Regions from separate parts of the Homo sapiens genome. Here region 1 is linked to region 2. Evidence: fine-mapped expression QTL. A gene starts in region 2. The other region holds a variant in brackets. All regions are shown on one strand. Distances are from middle to middle.

Region 1 (4,389 bases), 23 kb before region 2:
GAGCCAGGAGGATTGTATGAGACTGGGAGGTAGAGGCTGCAGTGAGCCATGGTTGTGCCACTGCACTCCAGCCTGGGTGACTCTGTTTAAAAAAAAAAAAAAAAGAGAAGAGGTTGGTGACTTGCCCAAAGTCACAAAGCTAGTAAGTGGCAGAGCAGGGATTTATATGCAGGCAATCTGATGCTATACAGTCCCCTAACAAGTAAACAAATAAAAAGAATTAATAGACTGTGATAAATGCTATCAGTGAAATAAATGGGGTAATAAGGTAGATAGTAACTAGAGGAGGTCGTTTTATTATTTATTTATTTATTTATTTTATTATTATTGTTTTGAGACAGAGTCTCACTCTGTCACCCAGGCTGGAGTGCAGTGGCATGATCTCGGCTCACTGCAACATCTGTCTCCCGAGTTCAGGTGATTCTCATGTCTCAGCCTCCCAAGTAGCTGGGACTACAGGTGTGCACCACCATGCCCAGCTAATTTTTGTATTTTTAGTACAGACAGGGTTTCACTATGTTGGCCAGGCTGGTCTCAAACTCCTCTCCTCAAGTGATCCGCCGGCCTTGGCCTCCCAAAGTGCTGGGATTATAGGCGTGAGCCACCGTGCCCAGCCTCATTTTAGATTGGAGTTTAGGAAATCTCTCTCTAAAGAAATGATATCTGAGCTCTAAATAAGAATGATCCAGAGCTGGAGGAACAGCATTCCAGAAGGAGGGACTAGCAATATAAAAATATGGATGTAGAGGCCAGGAGTGGTGGCTCACACCTGTAATCCCAGCACTTTGGGAGGCCGAAGCGGGCAGGTCACCTGAGGTCAGGAGTTCGAGACCAGCCTGGTCAACATGGTGAAACCCTGTCTCTACTAAAAATACAAAAATTAGCTACTCAGGAGGCTGAGGCAGGAGAACCAGTTGAACCCAGGAGGCAGAGGTTGCAGTGAGCCGAGATCATGCCACTGCACTCCAACCTAGGTGACAAAGTGAGACTCTGTCTTTTTTTTTTTTTTTTTTTTTTTTTTTTGAGACGGAGTCTCGCTCTGTTGCCCAGGCCGGACTGCGGACTGCAGTGGCGCAATCTCGGCTCACTGCAAGCTCCGCTTCCCGGGTTCACGCCATTCTCCTGCCTCAGCCTCCCGAGTAGCTGGGACTACAGGCGCCCGCCACCGCGCCCGGCTAATTTTTTGTATTTTTAGTAGAGACGGGGTTTCACCTTGTTAGCCAGGATGGTCTCGATCTCCTGACCTCATGATCCACCCGCCTCGGCCTCCCAAAGTGCTGGGATTACAGGCGTGAGCCACCGCGCCTGGCCGACTCTGTCTTAAAAAATATATATATATAAATGTAGGACAGGGCTTTGTGATTCAAAGAATAGAAAGAAATAAATGGGAAAATCAAACCAAACACCAATGATCTGGGAAATCCTTTATATGGCCGGCTGGGGCATGCTGAGGTATAAAGTAAATGAACAGGCCGATTGGAAAGCCCAATGCCATGAAGCTGCAGCACCGGGGCTCAAACCAGCACAGGAGAAATATCCATGAAGTTTGTACCTAACATGGAGAGGCAGACCCTGCTGTGATGTCCAAACCAACATTCATTCCCATCCTTCTTTTTCCTCCCTAGCTTCCACTAATGGCGAGGAAAACAAACATTCACTTTCCCAGTAGTGTGTGTGTGTGTGTGTGTGTGTGTGTGTGTCTGTGTGTGTGTGTGTATAAGAGAGAGAGAGAGAAACAGAGCGAGAGAGAGAAAGAGGAAGAGAGAGAGAGAAGGACAGGGTCTTACTCTGTCATCCAGGCTGGAATACAGTGACACAATCATGGCTCACTGCAGCCCCGAATTCCTGGGCTCAAGCAATCCTTGAGCCTCAGTCTCCAGAGTAGGTGGGAGAACAGTGTGTGCC[G/A]CCCAGCATTCTTTATAACATGGTTCTGGTCAGTGAGATGTAAGATGAAATGTGCTAACAGCTTCTGGGAAAGTTGTTATGGCTTCCAGATAAAAGGGACAGACACAGCTGGAGCCTCCCTTCTTGTCTTGAACACAGAGCTTCAAACTGCAGTTAACTACCTTGTAACCATGAAGGAAAGGCCAGCAGCCATCTGCTCTCATATATAAAAATCCTATTTACATAAGCACTGTTACTCGGGTATTCTGTAAACTGACCAACTCTTTCTAACCTTTATTTTCTACACCAAGTAGAAAAGAGATCAAGATTAGGGTGGAATAGGAGAGGCTCCTGAGAACAGCCTATTCCTGAGGGCTTCCATTCCTGACAGTGCCAGGGAGGGTCTCAGAGGGAAAGCACCAGGGTGCTGCTCTTGCCTCATTTCCTCCAGGTTATTCCATACACAAACTGGAACCTAGAGCCACTTTCTATAGCAATTCCTTTTATCTAAACCCCATAGGAGCAAGGCATGGTAGCTCATGCCTGTGATCCCAACACTTTGGGAGGTCAAGGCAGAAGGATTGCTGGAGCCCAGGAGTTCGAGACCAGCAACATAATGAGACCCCATTTCAGTTTTGTTGTTGTTGTTGTTGTTGTTTGAGACAGAGTCTCACTTTATCACCCAGGATGGAGGGCAGTGGAGCAGTCTTGGCTCACTGCAACCACTGCCTCCTGGGTTCAAGCAATTCTCCCGTCTCAGCCTCCTGAGTAGCTGGGATTACAGGTGCACACCACCATGCCTGGCTAATTTTTGTATTTTTAGTAGAGATGGGGTTTCACCATGTTGGCCAGGCTGGTCTCAAACTTCTGGCCTCAAGTGATCCGCCCACCTTGGCCTACCAAAGTGCTGGGATTACAGGAGTGAACCACCACACCAGGCCCAGCAAGACCCCATTTCTACAAAAAATAAAAATTAGCTAGGTGTGATGATATATGCCTGTAGCCCCAACTACTTAGGAGGCTGAGGTAGGAGGATTGCTTGAATCCAGGAGGTGGAGGTCAAGGCTGCAGTGAGCTGTGACTGAACCACTGCACTCCAGCCTGGGCGACAGACAAGACCCTGTCTCAAATAAACAAGCAATCAAACAAAACCTCATTTGCCCCACCCTCAAGTGCCTACATTCCTACCAATTTCTGAAAGAATCTATTTAATTATTCCCTAAGAATAAAAAGTTAAAGAAAGGATTAAAATAAAGAACAACCATGAGGCCTCTGAAAGGATTCTGTAGAAGTGTTCCAGTGTACTTCCCACAATTTGGAGAGTTAACTTCAGAAACACAGAAATTAAGTTGGAGTTGGAAGCTGTGTTGTGCTAAGGAACTTTTTTTTATTTGAGAAGGAGTCTTGCTCTACCACCCAGGATGGAGTGCAGTGGTGCAATATCGCCTCACTGCAACCTCTGCCTCCTGAGTTCAAGCAATTCTTCTGCCTCAGCCTCCTGAGTAGCTGGGACTACAGGCATGTGCCACCATGCCCGGCTGATTTTTGTATTTTTGTAGAGATAGGGTCAGGCTGGTCTCGAACTCCTGACCTGAGACGATCCACCTGCCTCGGCCTCCCAAAGTGCTGGGATTACAGGCGTGAGCCACCGTGCCCAGCCTAAGCAACATTTTTTATTAACATCTTTAGCTCGGCTTGACTAAGGAAACATCTTTGCACACATACGAGAGTGATTTCTCCACTCCCATCTTCCCTATATAATGGGAGTACACATAGCTTTAGTCTCACCAGGGGAGTATCAAGCTGAGGGAGACATGTCCCAAAGCCTTCAGAAGAGGACAAGAATCTCTGAATGAGAGAGAAAACAAGGACTAGATATTGAGATTTCTAGAAGGTTTTATTTTCCCTCATTGTATTGTGCTATAATTTGGTAACAATCTTCTAATCTTCTATTAAGATACCAAATGGAAGGCTGATGTTTCAGAATGCATATAAATACACTTATGTTCTAGTAAACAAAACATTTTAAATTAACCCTAATAATCTGTACCTTTTCTTCAAAAAATCTGCTTTCCAGTCTTCTAAGAGTCTCCTGATGTATCCGCTCTGTGTTTCTTAAATTCTCTTTCAGCTAAAATTAAAATAACAAACAAACAAAAATGATCAATAGAAAATGGGGGTCATTGAGCACATTCTCAGAAAATTATCAATAAGGAAATGCTTTCTGTTATATGTTACCTCTTAATCCTGAACACACAGAAAAAATCTGTGTTCCTGCCTCCGAGTACCAAATTTCCCTCAATCTTCTACAGATTGATAACATTAGTACAGTAGTCCTCCTTATGTGCAGTTTCACTTTTTGCAGTTTCAGATAACTGCAGTCAATGATTTTTCAAAAATATTAAGAGGCTGAGCACGGTGGCTCACACCTGTAATCCCAGCACTTTGGGAGGCTAAGGTGGGTAGATAGCTTGAAGAAGTTTGAGACCAGCCTGGGCAACATGG
Region 2 (4,389 bases):
TTATATAGAGGTGGAGAGGAAAAAGGATGGATTCAAAGATTAAAGTGGTAAAGGAAGAGATTTTTCTAAATATTTATTGTATAAGCATTAACAAAACACTCCCCCTTATATATGGTAGGTACCATGATATATAAATATGTACATATTTAAGAATATTTCACCTGTATTTGAATTCTAAATATTTTCACACATATGTACATGTGGACCTTTCTATACTGCCACCCTCCACATCCACTTTCCTACCTCTGGTTCTCAGTCCTCTTCCACAGAGGTAATGGGTTTGCAGTGGAGAGAACCAAAGTCCCACTTTCACCTTTTGTTCTCTTCAAATTAAGGCCAGCTCCATTCCCAACCCCTCAGCCTGTTATAGCTGTTGATGTCCCTTTCTGGCATGATTTAGGCACTAGTGATACACTGTCTCACTACGACCATCCAGGTATCAGGTCTGAGTGGCTCGAAGTACTTGATGCGACAGGGCATGGTGGCTCACGGCTGTCATCCCAGCACTTTGGGAGGCCGAGGCGGGTGGATCACCTGAAGTCAGGAGTTCGAGACCAGCCTGGCCAACATGGTGAAACCCTGTCTCCACTAAAAATAAAAAAATTAGCTGGGCGTGGTGACGGGTGCCTGTAATCACAGCTACTCGGGAGGCTGAGGCAGGAGAATTGGTTGAACCCAGAAGGCAGAGGTTGCAGTGAGCTGAGATCGTGCCATTGCACTCCGGCTTGGGCAACAAGAGCAAAACTTGGTGTCAAGAAAAAAAAAAAAGTACTTGATGCAAGAAATTAGACACTCTAATAGGACCACTGATACTCACTGTAGAAACAAAGCCAGGTTTCTCAAACAATGGGTCATGGAAAATCCAAGGAATAAGGTCTCTTACCCTTAGTGTTCCTCATTGTTCAAATGTGTACTGTAGAAGCATGGTCAAAATCTGAAAACATATGTTAGTGAGTTCTAGGAATGTGATAAGCCCTTGGCACTTTAAGGGCTAGACTAACTGTGCAGTTATGTAAAAACAAAAAAAAAATACCATAAAAGAATACTTACATTAACAAATGGGAAGAAAAAAGCCACATATAAGTATGTACATTGGGCTATCGTTTTATTAAAAAAGAATACTCCAAAATATAGTAGTGTTTATTTTTGGATAATGAGACTACAGGTGATTTTTGTTTTTTCTTTTGGTACTTCCCATGTTTCCCAAACTTTCTGTATTGAGCATGAATTACTCTCTTAAGTTACTTTACAAACATCTCAAGTTTGGTGCCAACTCTGTGTTCCCATATATGGTGTTGTTGCTGGACACCACGTATGACTCCAACGTGTCCAGAAACCACCGGGGTCCCCCAATAGGGCTAGTAGCAATCTAGCAGCAACTCCAGGCCTGTAAGGGGTTAGTGCTAGAACATTACCCACCTCAGTGGCTCTGATCAGTTTGGGAAAACCTCAATAATTATCCAACTTGGTAAAATACTTTAGGTGTCCCCTTTGAACCAAAAGAGATCTCTGAAAAGGCCCAAGGAACTACTTTATACATCCTCTACACGTTTAAGATAATCTGAACACATAGTAGAGATCTGCCAGACTATGGACATGGGAGCTGTAATCCTCACAAGCCGGGAGAGCCGGGGAGAGGGTCCGAGTGGGCCGGCGCGGGGGGCGCCAGGTTGCCAGCCCCAGACCCGAAATCCCAGGCAGGCCCAGGGAGAGGGGACTCTCGGGTGGCTTCTCCTTACTTCGTGTCTTTGCCTTTGCTCTTGCCTTTCTTTTTGTCCTTTCCCTTCGACGGCATCTTGGCTTCCCCAGGGGCTCCGCTGTCGTAGTTGCCCAGCCGCGGCCGCCCTGGCCAGCTCTGTCTCCAAGGGAACCGGGACGCCGAGCTGGCAATGCCCCACCCGCGCCGCTGACGGCGCGCGGAGAGCGCACGCGCCCGTGACGTAGCCCAGGCGCCGCGGCGCGCGGGGTGGGGCGGAGGTCGCGCCGAGGGCGGCGGGCTGCCGCGCAAGGGTGGCGCGCGCGCGGTGAGTGTGCGAGTGTCGGCGGCGCCGGATCCTCTACGTGGGGCCCGGGCTCTGCGGGCGGGAGGCGGGAGCTGGCAGCCCCAGGCGGTAGCGCTTCGTCCTGCGGCCTGGGTGTGTCAGGAGTCGCTGCGGTCGGGGCGCCCTTGCCTCAGGAGACTTAGATCCCCGCTGATCCGCCCGTCCCGCCGCAGTGGTCTGAGCCGCAGCCCTTTCCCGTGCCGCCCGCGGGTCCCGTTCCTCCCGTGTCTCCATGCCGCAGCCAGCGTGGCCGCGGCTACCTTGCCCTCGCCCCCGCTCCGCTTCTGCCGCTCCCGGCACTGCCTTACTCCTTTGGGTTGCATCTCTTTCCTGGCTTTTCACCCTTGCTGATTCTGTAAGGGATAGTGCAGCCAGCGGACGTCCCAGGCCAAATGTTTTTTGATAGGCAGTCGAGGACTTTCCCGAGGGCGGTGGTTGAGGGCGAGGCTGCCAGCCTCCGAAGAGCAGCGGCACGCCAGGGAGCCGGGCGGGGAGGGGAGTGCTGCCACCGAGGTCGGGAGCAGGGTCCTCGGCCTCACTAGGTCCTGTGTGGCCGATACTTCCTGCCCACGACCGCCCCCCGGATTTCCATTTGCTAATACCGGTCCGCAGCCTTCTTTCCTGAAAGTTGCATAAAGTTGGAAGCTCTTCAACTTGCCTCCCCGACTCCTGAAATCCCGAATACACCTCTGAAAAGGAGTGTACTCACAAGTATTCTCATTTTTCAATGAGAGTCAGTCAGTGAGTCATTAAGGAAGGTACGGTATTCTGAGTGCCAAGCCAATAGTTAGGAGACTTGTGGTTGAAGCTCTGCTCTGTTATACTCCATTTCAAATTAAAAAGTTTATTTTAAATGTGGTTGTAGATCCTTCGTCACCATTTCTCTAGGGAGGACTTAATCCGTACACTCCTTCCCGATGTCTTTGACCTCTAATTACTCCCCTCCGCCTTGTTTCCCACTTGCATAGTTTCTGTTTCTGAATTTCTGTTTCTTCTGAGGGAACATGCCGATTTGGTAATGATAAGCCTTGTAAACTTTTTTTTTTTTTTTTCTGAGAGAGAGTCTTCTGTCACCCAGGCTGGAGTGCAGTGGGGCATCTCGGCTCCCTGCAACCTCCACCTCCTTGGTTCAAGCGATTCTCCTGCCTCAGCCTCCCCAGTAAGTGGGACTACAGGTGCATGCCACCACACCCGGCTAATTTTTGTATTTTTGGTAGAGATGGAGTTTCACCATGCTGGCCAGGCTGGTCTCGAACTCCTGGCCTCAGGTGATCCACCTGCCTCGGCCTCCCAAAGTGTTGAGATTACAGGCGTGGGCCACCGCCCCGGCTGTAAACCTTTTTTTTGAGACAAGAGTTTTGCTCTTGTTGCCTAGGCTGGAGTGCAATGGCGCAATCTCGGCTCACCACAACCTCTGCCTCCCGGGTTCAAGCAATTCTCCTGCCTCAGCCTCCCCAGTAACAGACTATAGGTGCGTGCCACCATGCCAGGCTAATTTTTGTATTTTTGGTAGAGACAGAGTTTCACCATGCTAGCCAGGCTGGTCTTGAACTCCTGGCCTCAGGTGATCCACCCGCCTTGGTCTCCCAAAGTGTTGAGATTTACAGGCATGAGCCACCGCCCCCGGCTGTAAAATTTTTTTTTTTTTTTTTTGAGACAGAGTTTTGCTCTTGTTGCCCAGGCTGGAGTGCAATGGCACGATCTCGGCTCACCGCAACCTCCACCTCCCAGTTCAAGCGATTCTCCTGCCTCAGCCTCCCGAGTAGCTGGGATTACAGGCACACACCACCATCCCTGGCTAATTTTGTATTTTTAGTAGAGACAGGGTTTCTCCATGTTGGTCAGGCTGGCGTAAACCTTATTATACATACCATCTGCCAGCATGATCATGGCTTTTTCTTTTCTTTTTTTTTGAGATGGAGTTTCGCTCTTGTTTCCCAGGCTGGAGTGCAATAGCACGATCTCGGCCCACCGCAGCCTCCACCTCCCAGGTTCAAGCAATTCTCCTGCCTCAGCCTCCCGAGTAGCTGGGAATCCAGGCATGCGCCACCATGCCCGGCTACTTTTGTAATTTTAGTAGACACGGGGTTTCTCCATTTTGGTCAGGCTAGTCTCGAACTTCCAACCTCAGGTGATCCGCCCGCCTCGGCCTACCAAAGTACTGGGATTACAGGCGTGAGCCACCACGCCTGGCCGATCATAGCTTTTTCTGAGTGTATTTCTGGTATACTTTCACACTCCCGTGAGTCCATAGGCGGAATCGCCATATATTGAAGAGTTTATCTCTGATGTAAAATCTATAAAGTTACCATTAATTTTGTATGTGTAAGGTTCTGAAAAAGCACAC

Alleles and levels. Alleles are on the strand shown, and positions count from the first base shown. SD is a standard deviation of normalised expression in the study named.
For the expression in subcutaneous fat of the gene that starts at base 1,925 in region 2, allele A in region 1 goes with a higher level than allele G (small effect, 0.27 SD a copy in GTEx).

The links. PIP is the estimated chance that this variant, and not a neighbour inherited with it, causes the effect. A credible set is the group of variants that fine-mapping cannot tell apart.
Region 1: its variant is the best candidate, but not a certain one, in a credible set for the expression of BBOF1 in subcutaneous fat (GTEx, PIP 0.84).

The regions. Positions count from the first base shown.
Region 1 is chr14:74,040,191-74,044,579 of GRCh38, reverse strand. It overlaps BBOF1 (basal body orientation factor 1), which reads right to left. Exons shown (of 12, transcript NM_025057.3): 5 at 3,935-4,015. Among named protein-coding and RNA genes, the nearest start is that of BBOF1, 23 kb to the right of the region's middle. RefSeq lists an enhancer at 75-244. The variant G/A (reference allele first, on the strand shown) is at 1,906.
Region 2 is chr14:74,016,885-74,021,273 of GRCh38, reverse strand. BBOF1 (basal body orientation factor 1) reads right to left here and starts at 1,925. Exons shown (of 12, transcript NM_025057.3): 1 at 1,740-1,925. The coding sequence starts at 1,795. ENTPD5 (ectonucleoside triphosphate diphosphohydrolase 5 (inactive)) reads left to right here and starts at 1,986. Exons shown (of 16, transcript NM_001249.5): 1 at 1,986-2,024. RefSeq lists silencers at 1,809-2,058, 2,089-2,158, 2,169-2,308, 2,349-2,418, 2,334-2,628.